2 linked regions of the Homo sapiens genome follow. The protein of the gene in region 1 interacts with the protein of each later gene in a pairwise test. Each region holds a gene or a part of one and is shown in the gene's direction. Other genes may lie near its edges.

Region 1 (5,882 bases):
TTTTAGTAGAGACGGGGTTTCACCTTGTTAGCCAGGATGGTCTCGATCTCCTGACCTCGTGATCCACCCGCCTTGGCCTCCCAAAGTGCTGGGATTACAGGCATGAGCCACCACGCCCGGCCTCTTTTGAGAAATCTTGCAGAAAAGGGAAGGAAATGAGTGAGCAGCAGCTGGACAGGAGATACAGTTTTATGTTTTTAAGATGGAAGAGGCCAGACACAGTGACTCACGCCTGTAATCCCTGCACACCAGGAGGCTGAGGCAGGAGGATCGCTTGAGGCCAGGAGTTTGAGGCCAGCCTGGGCCACATAGCGAGATCCTGTCTCTATAAAAATCAAAAGTAAAATTGGCCAGGCATGGTGTTGCGTGCCTATAGTCCCAGCTACCTAGGAGGCCAAGGTGGGAAGGTGGCTTGAGCCCAGGAGTTGGAGACTGCAGTGAGCCATGATTACACCGCTGCACTCCAGCCTGGGTAACAGAATGAGACCCTGTCTCAAAATAAAAGAAAAAAAGAAAAGAAAAAAATTAAGATGGAAGAAGTAACACTGCATGGAGGCTAAGGAGAAAGATCCAGGAGGCATGGGGACGTTGGTGAGACAAGAGGGAGAGAGAGGACAGCTGCAGAGATGTAGGTGAAGGGGTAGAGTCCAGTGTAGGGTCCGGGGTTTGCCCACCATGGAGGGAAGTGGGCCAGTCACAGTTGGCCTAGGACCCTGTGGAAATTGTCTTTTGTTTGCTTTTATCTTCTCACTGAAATACATATGGTTTTTGTGTGAACTACATTCCTTTTATTTCTTCTTTATATGACAGTCAGGACATTATATTGATTTTTTTTTGAATTTATGTGTGTAAGTAGGTTATATTATCTAGGAATTTTATTTCGGGATGGGAAAAGGGGGCAGTGCAAAAATACTCAATAAAAAAAATAGCCGGGCATGGTGGCTCACAGTGGCTCACACCTGGAATCCCAGCACTTTCGGAGGCTGAGGCAGGTGGATCATTTGAGGTCAGGAGTTCGAGACCAACATGGCCAACATGGTGAAACCCCATCTCTACTAAAAATACAAAAATTAGCCGGGCGTAGTGGCACGTGCCTGTAGTCCCAGCTACTTGGGAGGCTGAGGCCGGAGAATGGCTTGAACCTGGGAGGCGGAGGTTGCAGTGAGCTGAGATCGCACCACTGCACTCCAGCCTGGGCGACAGAGTGAGACCCTGTCTCAAAAAAAAAAAATTGGGTACCGGTCTGACGGGATTGAACTCCCTTGTTGTAGGGCCTCATAGGTCATTGCAAGGCTAGTGAGGTTGGAAAAGTGCAGGAAAAAAGTCACCATTACCCAGGCACTGTGGGGTTGCCCCTCTGGTCCCCATTTTGCCATTGACATAATGGGCGTCAGTCTGACCAGCAAAAGACTAAACTCCCCTTTTCCAGCCCTGCAATTCAAATATCCCAGATGGGGGTAAATCTAGGAAGGCCACCTGGAGGAGGGGAGGAGCAAAATAGTTCGTTTTTAGTACCTATTGTGTCTGCCATGCTGGCAGCTATGTGAAGCTATTTATTTATTTATTTTTATTTATTTGTATTTTTATTGCCTGGGATAGAGTGCAATGATGTGATCTTGGCTCACTGCAACCTCTGCTGCTCGGATTCAAGCAATTCTTGTGCCTCAGACTCCCGAGTAGCTGGGATCACAGGCGTGCACCACCATGCCAGGCTAATATTTTGTATTTTTAGTAGAGATGGGGTTTTGCCATGTTGGTCAGGCTGGTCTCCAACTCCTGACCTCAGGTGATCCGCCCGCCTCGGCCTCCCAAAGTGCTGGCATTACAGGTGTGAGCCACCATGCCCGGCCGATGTGAAGCTATTTATATCCTCACCACAATCTCAAATCAGAGGGGTGAAGTTACTTAGCTAGGGTCACACAGCAAGGAAGCTTTGGAACCCTGGTCTGAGCGATTTCCTGACAGGTCCTGGCAGATGAGGGGAAGGAAGGAGGGGGAGGAGCCCTCTGTGACAGTTGTCCCAGAAAGGGCATAAACAGGATGTGGTGTTGGATGAAACCTTCCTCCTACTGCACAGCCCGCCCCCCTACAGCCCCGGTCCCCACGCCTAGAAGACAGCGGAACTAAGAAAAGAAGAGGCCTGTGGACAGAACAATCATGGTCAGGGGCCAGGGGTTCTATGGGAAGAGCTGGGGCTGGGGTTGGGGCTGGGGCTTGGAGGACACCTGGGCGAAGGTCAGGCTATGGGATGGAGGTCACGGGCCGGGAAGGGGGCCCAACTGTGGTGAACAGCCCGGCTGGAAGAACAGAGAGACAGTGGCTCTGGGTTTAGGCTCAGGAAGTGGATCTCTGCACCTCCTTGAGTGTCCCCCAAGAGTCCCCGTGGAGAAGGCGGGAACCCAGCCTCTGCTCCGCCCCCCAAGCTGAGTGCCCTGGTGAGGGGTATCTACTCTGTGGGAAGGGTGCCTTTTCTCAATGTTCACAAAGGCATCAGATGGGCCGGCGCGATGCTCCTCTTCATTAGTGGATGGAGAAACAGGTTTGGGGAAGGGGTGAGGGCTGAGGCCAGGCCATTTCAGCTCTTCCTGGGTCCCTCCGGCAGTCTGACTCCCTGGTGGTGTGCGAGGTAGACCCAGAGCTAACAGAAAAGCTGAGGAAATTCCGCTTCCGAAAAGAGACAGACAATGCAGCCATCATAAGTGAGTGACATCTTCCCCCACAGAAGGATGGGAGGGCGGTGGTGAGGGCAGATAGGGAGGGCTGGGCTTGTGTCCCCCATGGATCAGGGGGAGTGTCTAATCCCTGTGTGCCACCCCTCCCCAGTGAAGGTGGACAAAGACCGGCAGATGGTGGTGCTGGAGGAAGAATTTCAGGTGATGGGCTGGGGTGATTGGGACTGGGAGGTACAGGGTGAGACTGGGAGAACCAAGTGGTTGGAACTGATATGAAGAGCCTGGCATGGGGGTAGAAAGACCTGGAGATTGGCCGAGCACAGTGGCTCATGCCTGTAATCCCAGCACTTTGGGAGGCCGAGGCAGGTGGATCACCTGAGGTTGGGAGTTCAAGACCAGCCTGGCAAACATGGTGAAACCCCATCTGTACTAAAAATATAAAAAGTTAGCTAGGCATGGTGGTGGGCACCTGTAATCACAGCTACTTGGGAGGCCGAGGCAGGAGAATCGCTGGAACCCGGGAGATGGAGGCTGTAGTGAGCCGAGATTGTGCCACTACACTTCAGTCTGAACCACAGAGCAAGACTCTGTCTCAAAAACAAAAACAAAAAACAAAAAAACAAAAAACCCTGGAGATCAAGTTCTAGCTCACTCATGACCCCCAGCAAGAGACTTTGCCTGTTTGTGTCTCTATTTCCTCATCTGTGAAATGGGGAGAATAGTACTTATCTCATAGGCTTGTTTTTACATCCAGTGATTTAATTCTTGTAATGGGTTTAGAACAAGGCCTGGCACTTAGTATGTGCTCAATAAGGTGATGATGATCTTAATAATGATGATAATAATGCTTTATTGGCATTTAAATGAAAGAGTTTCCATATAAGTTAAAAAGCTAGCCAGGCATGGTGGCTCATGCCTGTAATCCCAGCGCTTTGGGAGGCTGAGGCAGGAGGATCACTTGAGCCCAGGAGTTTAAGACCAGCCTGGGCAACATGGTAACACCCTAACTCTACTAAAAATACAAAAATTAGCCAAGCACAGTGGTGTGCACCTGTGATCTCAGCTACACAGGAGGCTGAGGTGGGAGGGTTGCTTGAGGCTGGGAGTTTTGAGACCAACCTGGGCAACAAAGCAAGACCCCATCTCGGCTGGGTGCCGTGGCTCACGCCTGTAATCTCAGCACTTTGGGAGGCTGAGGCGGGCGGATCACAAGGTCAGGAGATCGAGACCATCCTGGCTAACATGGTGAAACCCCGTCTCTACTAAAAATTCAAAAAATTAGCTGGGTGTGGTGGCGGGTGCCTGTAGTCCCAGCTACTCGGGAGGCTGAGGCAGGAGAATGGCGTGAACCCCGGAGGCGGAGCTTGCAGTGAGCCAAGATCGTGCCACTGCACTCCAGCCTGGGCGACAGACTCTGTCTCAAAAAAAAAAAAAAAAAAAAAAAGACTCCATCTCTACAAAAAAAAAAAAGGGGGTAGACCTCACCCCCCTGGTGGCCTCACTGTCTTTATCAATAACAAGAATGATAATAAGGCTTATTTCTCTAGTGTTGCGATAAGGATTTATAAGGGAATCCATGGAGACTGGGGGCTGGGGCTCTCTCAGGCCCTCTGAAAGGCAGTATAGTGAAGCAGTTATGATTCGAACCCAGATTCAAATCTCAACTCTGCTGCTTTCTATCTGTGCAATCTTGGGCAAATGCCTTAACACCTCTGGGCCTCAGTTTTCTCAGCTGTATAGTGGGCATAATGATGGGACCTACCCCACAGACTTACGGGATAGTTGCATGAATTAATCCATGTGTGTTTCATAGAACGATGCCTTGGCACATGGTAAGTGCTCACCTAAAGGTGGTCATTCTTTTTTTTTTTTTTTTTTTTGAGACGGAGTTTCGATCTTTTTTGCTCAGGCTGGAGTGCTATGGCACAATCTTGATTCACTGCAACCTCCGCCTCCCGGGTTCAAGCAATTCTCCTGCCTCAGCCTCCTGAACACGCCTGGCTAATTTTTTTGTTGGAAATGGAGTCTCACTCTGTCTCCCAGGCTGGAGTGCAGTGGCGCGATCTCGGCTCACTGCAACCTCTGCATCCCGGATTCAAGCAATTCTCCTGCCTCAGCCTCTCGAGTAGCTGGGACTACAGGTGCATGCCACCATGCCTGGCTAATTTTCTGTATTTTTAGTAGAGACGGGTTTCACCCTGTTAGCCAGGATGGTCTGAATGATTTCCTGACCTTGTGATCCGCCTGCCTCGGCCTCCCAAAGTGCTGGGATTACAGGTGTGAGCCACTGCGCCCTGCCTCATTCTTTGTCTTTTCTTCTGTTTTCTTGCCTCAGAACATTTCCCCAGAGGAGCTCAAAATGGAGTTGCCGGAGAGACAGCCCAGGTATCCTGGGGGAAGAAAGGGTTGGATCAGGCCATGAGGGGAGGGGTGATGTTGGAGGTATAGGCTAAGGGACTGCTGGAGTTCCAGCCCTATTCATGGACTTTGAATCTCTGTGTTTGGCCGAGTGAGGTGGCTCATCCCTGTAATCCCAGCACTTTGGGAGGTCAAGGAGGGTGGATCACTTGAGGTCAGGAGTTCAAGACTAGCCTGACCAACATGGTGAAATCCCGTCTCTACTAAAAATACAAAAATTAACTGGGCGTGGTGGCATGTGACTGTAATCCCAGCTACTTGGGAGGCTGAGGCACGAGAATCGCTTGAACCTGGCAGGCAGAGGCTGCAGTGAGCTGAGATCACACCACTGCACTCCAGCCTGGGTGACACAGCGAGACTCTATCTCAAAAAAAAAAAAAAAAAAAAGAATCTCTGTGTTTGAGGCCAAGAGTTCATACTCTAGAACTTTTTGTTTGTATAGCAATATTTTATTGCAGAATTTTATACCGATTATTTATGATACCGGTTTAAGAGTCTTTTTTTTTTTTTTGTACAAACTTTGTTGAGTTTTTGTTTCAACATTACGCTGGCATCATTTTTTAAAAATGAAATTTTGGCCAGGTACTATGACTCCCACCTGTAATCTCAGCCCTTTGGGAGCCTGAGGCGGGAGGATCACCTGAGGCCAGGAGTTCGAGACTAGCCTGGGCAACATAGCAAGACCTTGTCTCTATTTTTTTTTTTTTTTTGTTAGAGACAGAGTCTCGCTCTGTTGCCCAGGTTGGAGTGCAGTGGCGCGATCTTGACTCACTGCAACCTCCGCCTCCTGGG
Region 2 (4,513 bases), on another chromosome or scaffold:
TTCTCTTTTTTATGTAGGCAGACACATGTTTAGAGGAATGTTGATTTACCATCTACCTGTGTTGGAAGCCTGTTCATTTTGGGATTTTATGATTGAAAACAGCAGCGGTGTGTGTTTCCTGCCTTCTGCCAGGATCATCTTATATTGGAAGCTGTTAGGAAAGGGTTGCTTTTCAAAATTGGTGCACATTACCCACAAACTCAGAAAGCTACCTAAATCATTAAGACTAGAAATCTCAGTAGTCCAGGCATCTGGTGAGATACCTGCGGGCACTTCTTACTCGTGGCTAGGAGCCGGAGTTGAGTGGGTGGCAGGAGGCTGGAGGCCAGGCTGGGTAAGTCCAAGCTATGTTTCAGGGTATCACATGGTTAAGTGCAAGAAACAGGATGCGGTGTCATTTCTTCCTGGGTATGTTGGGTGAGGGCAAGAACTTTGCAAACCCTAGGAGAGGATTATATTTTCAACAAGTCAAGTGATTTATATACAGTGTCAGTTTTTGTTGGCAATATCCTTTCAGTTATTTGTTTGTTCATTTTTTTTTGGCTATATGAGGTGTGAGCTCCCTCACGAAGCCTGAAGGATTGATAAATTTCACCTGTGATCTAAAAACTTAGGAAAGATTCCCACTAGTGAAACCAAGTCACCAGCCAAGTAGATCATCCGTAAGAAAGCCTGAAATCTGCCTATGTTTCTGAAAAGTTAAGGTGGTCAGTGGTCAGGGGACAGGACAGGACTTCTGAGTCTGTATTCATTAACGGGTCACGTTGCACACCCTCAAGCATTGGTATTTCCTAGAAAAGTTGTGGCTGCCATGACATTCTAGCATAGCTTGCTTTCCATTGTAGACTCAGTGTCTCATGTCCTTTGACTTTCTTTTTTGTCTGTCTGTCTGTCTGTCCTTGGTCTCCCCATCCCTCTCATTCTGTCTCATTGTCTTGCTGAAATTTGATGTCCCAGCCGCCCTTATGGCCAAACTGAAACTTTATGTAACAGATGGTAACATCTTCAGCACACTCTATGTGTTGTTTTTGGCCAACATTTTAATTGCCACCGTTCTTCATGCCCTTCTGAGTTCTTTTTCCATTTCCACTGACCAGATTGGGGTTTAGGGAGATTCCTCTGCTCCCTTGCTTTGGACATAGTGAATGTGGAGCCGGGGCACAGTTCACCCTCCTGGGAAGTGACCTTTAGGATTTGTGTGTGTGTGTTCCATAGGGGGTGGGTAGACAACACTGACAGATTGGGTACTAGTTTTCTGCTCTGTTTCCCACCCTCGTGGTATTAACACTATTCTTTCACTGTCCTTTCCCCAAAGGCCCCAGTAACAATGCCACTGGCCAGTCCCGGGCCATGATTGCTGCAGCTGCTCGGCGCAGGGACTCAAGCCACAACGAGTTGTATTATGAAGAGGCCGAACATGAACGGCGAGTAAAGAAGCGGAAAGCAAGGTATACTGCCCTCCTGATGCCAGTACCCTCTTACAGACTTTTAAATTTTTATTTTATTTATTTATTTATTTATTTATTTAGAGACAGAATCTCACTCTGTTGCCCAGGCTGGAGTGCAGTGGCAAGATCTTGGCTCACTGTCACCTCTGCCTCCCAGGTTCCAGTGATTCTCATGCCTCAGCCTCCCAAATAGCTGCGATCACAGGCGCCCACCACCACGCCCGGCTAATATTTGGTATTTTTAGTAGAGATGGGGTTTCGCTATGTTGGCCAGACTGGTCTCAAACTCCTGACCTCGAGTGATGTGCCTGTCTCAGCCTCCCAAAGTACTGTGATTACAGGCATGAGCCACCATGCCCGGCCTCTTGTAGACTTTCAATCTTTCCTTTCTTACCACTAGAATGAGGTTTCTGTTTAAAAACATGACCTGCTGGGACACCTTTGGAGTGCACCTTGCTCCAGTGTTTCTCAAACTGAAGCCTGTATGAATATCACTGGGAGGGCTGTTCAAATACAGGCAGCAGGTTCTGGGCCCTGCTTGCAGAGACCCTACCCAATAGGTGTGGAGTTGGGCCCAAGAAATGGCATTTCTAACAGATTCCTGCGTGATGCTGATGCTCCTGGCCCCCAGCCCATACTTGAGTGGGTCTGTTCTGCACCCCTGGACCCTTGCTGGTGTTCACCGTCAGGTCATATTCACTGAAGGGGACAGAGGTGCATTCCATCATGTGTGCTGTGCCTCTTCCTGTTTCCCAGGGGCTGCTGGTGTGGGTGGCTGGACCAGGGAGCACGCAGCTCTGCTTCTTTGTAGGGCTGCTTCTGCACCACCAGCCACCTCTCTCTGTACAGAGCCTTTTATAGCCAGTCGGAGGGGCCTCAGAACTCTTTTCATCTAACCATTGCAGAGATGAAAAAAGGACTAGTGCATTTCCCAAGCTCATTGGTGGCAGAATTCAGAACAGAGTTCATCTCCCAGTCCTGGGGCTCCTTTCCCCCAACCCCTGGGGCCCCTGTTCCACATGTTATTTTTGCTGTTGCCTTTCTTTCTCCCTTCCTCCCTCTCCACTCTCTGAGGGACAGCTAAGGATGCAAGCAGCGTGATTGGGCCTTGGGTATGTTGGCAGGTTGGGCCGCAGCAGGGTAGACAAGCGTCATTCTGTTCTCACACCCTGTGGCAGGCACCATCCTGATTACTTAGTGTTGCATCACCTTCTAGGCTGGTGGTTGCAGTGGAAGAGGCCTTCATCCACATTCAGCGTCTCCAGGCTGAGGAGCAGCAGAAAGCCCCAGGGGAGGTGATGGACCCTAGGGAGGCCGCCCAGGCCATTTTCCCCTCCATGGCCAGGGCTCTCCAGAAGTACCTGCGCATCACCCGGCAGCAGAACTACCACAGCATGGAGAGCATCCTGCAGCACCTGGCCTTCTGCATCACCAACGGCATGACCCCCAAGGTGCGCTGCTCCGGGCGGGCTCTGCCACCGTCATCCTGGCTTGTCACTGAGCTTGGCCAGTTGAATTATAGCGTGTTACTAGAAGTGATAAAATCGAAAGGCATCTCTAAAACTCAAGTAATAAGAATTAGTGATTCTCACTTATTTTATGTTATGTTAGTACAATTGTTTTTTTAAATGTGCCTTTCGAAGGCCTCTGGATTCTAACAGAGGAGAGAATTTCGCTTGGAGGACAGTATGGAATAGTGATTGGAGACAGTATGGAATAGTGATTAGGGGTGCATTGTGGACTCTGGAGCTGAACTGATTCATTCTAACCTGGCTCCTCCACCAACTAGATGCATAACCTTGGGCAGATGGCAATAGCTCTGTGCCTCAGTTTCCTAACCTGTTAATTGGTTAGGATAATACTAATAACTATCTCATTTGTATGTTTTGGGAACTGAAAGAGCAGGATACACATATAGTGCAACATATAAACAGAGGTCCTTATAAAAAACAGCTACCAAATGTTACACGTGTACCACATGCCAAGCTCATCTACTCTCTACCATGCGATTTACATGCCTTGTTGCCATATTCAATGTAATTCTTACACAACAACCCTGTCAGAGAGATATTATTATTATCCTCATTGATACAACAGCAAACAAGTGTAGAGGAACTGAAACAGTTAATTCATGTGAAGTGCTTGAAACAGTACCTGTCATATGATGAGGATGGACTAAATAGCTCTATTTATTGGTAAAAAATAGAATGGCGTGAACCCAGGAGGCAGAGCTTGCAGTGAGCCAAGATCGCACCACTGCACTCCAGCCTGGGCGACAGAGCGAGACTCCGTCCAAAAAAAAAAAAAAAAAAAATGCCATCAGGCATTTTGGGTGTTACAGAATTAGTTTTACTGAGTGGTCTTTTAGATTATGATATTTAGGACACTTTAAGAAGTGTTACAAGAAACAGCCATGTATCTAATAGAGAGTTGTGGCCAAGGAGGCAAACTAGAGTAAAGATACAGCAAATGACTTCTCTACAGAGAAGTGGGTTCAAATCCTGGCTCCACCACTTAATTGTTTTGTGACTGTGCACAAATTACTCTACCCTCTATTAGATATATGGCTGTTTCTTGTAATATCCCTAAAAGTGTGCTAAATACTGTAATCTAAAAGACCGTTTGGTAAAACTGACTCTGTAACACCCAAAATGCCTGACAAAGCCATAGCATTATTTTTACCAATAATAATAATAGCAATTTAGTCTGGCCTCTTCATATGACAGGTACTGTTTTAAGCACATCACGTGAATTAACTCTTTCAGTTCCTCTACACTTGTTTACTGTTGTATCAATGAGGATAATAATAATATCTCTCTGACAGGGTTGTTGTGTAAGAATTACATTGAATATGGCAACAAGGCATGTAAATCGCATGGTAGAGAGTAGATGAGCTTGGCATGTGGTACATGTGTAACATTTGGTAGCTGTTTTTTTATAAGGACTTCTGTTTATATGTTGCACTATATGTGTATCCTGCTGGTTACATTGTCAACCAATAACTACCCTTAGGAAAGCAATGTAGAAATAGTAAGAAACCAAAAAGTTTTCTGTATTGATTCACT

Evidence for each region.
Region 2: the proteins of GMFG (region 1) and VANGL1 interact in a two-hybrid assay, tested with the Homo sapiens proteins (one large-scale study listed by BioGRID and IntAct).

The regions. Positions count from the first base shown.
Region 1 is NC_000019.10:39,332,252-39,338,133, reverse strand, and holds the start of GMFG (glia maturation factor gamma), read left to right. Parts: upstream 1-2,090; 5' UTR 2,091-2,157; coding exon 2,158-2,160; intron 2,161-2,579; exon of another isoform or gene 2,580-2,602; coding exon 2,603-2,699; intron 2,700-2,823; coding exon 2,824-2,873; intron 2,874-5,007; coding exon 5,008-5,057; intron 5,058-5,882.
Region 2 is NC_000001.11:115,682,629-115,687,141, forward strand, and holds part of VANGL1 (vang-like protein 1), read left to right. Parts: intron 1-1,315; coding exon 1,316-1,448; intron 1,449-2,664; coding exon 2,665-2,899; intron 2,900-4,513.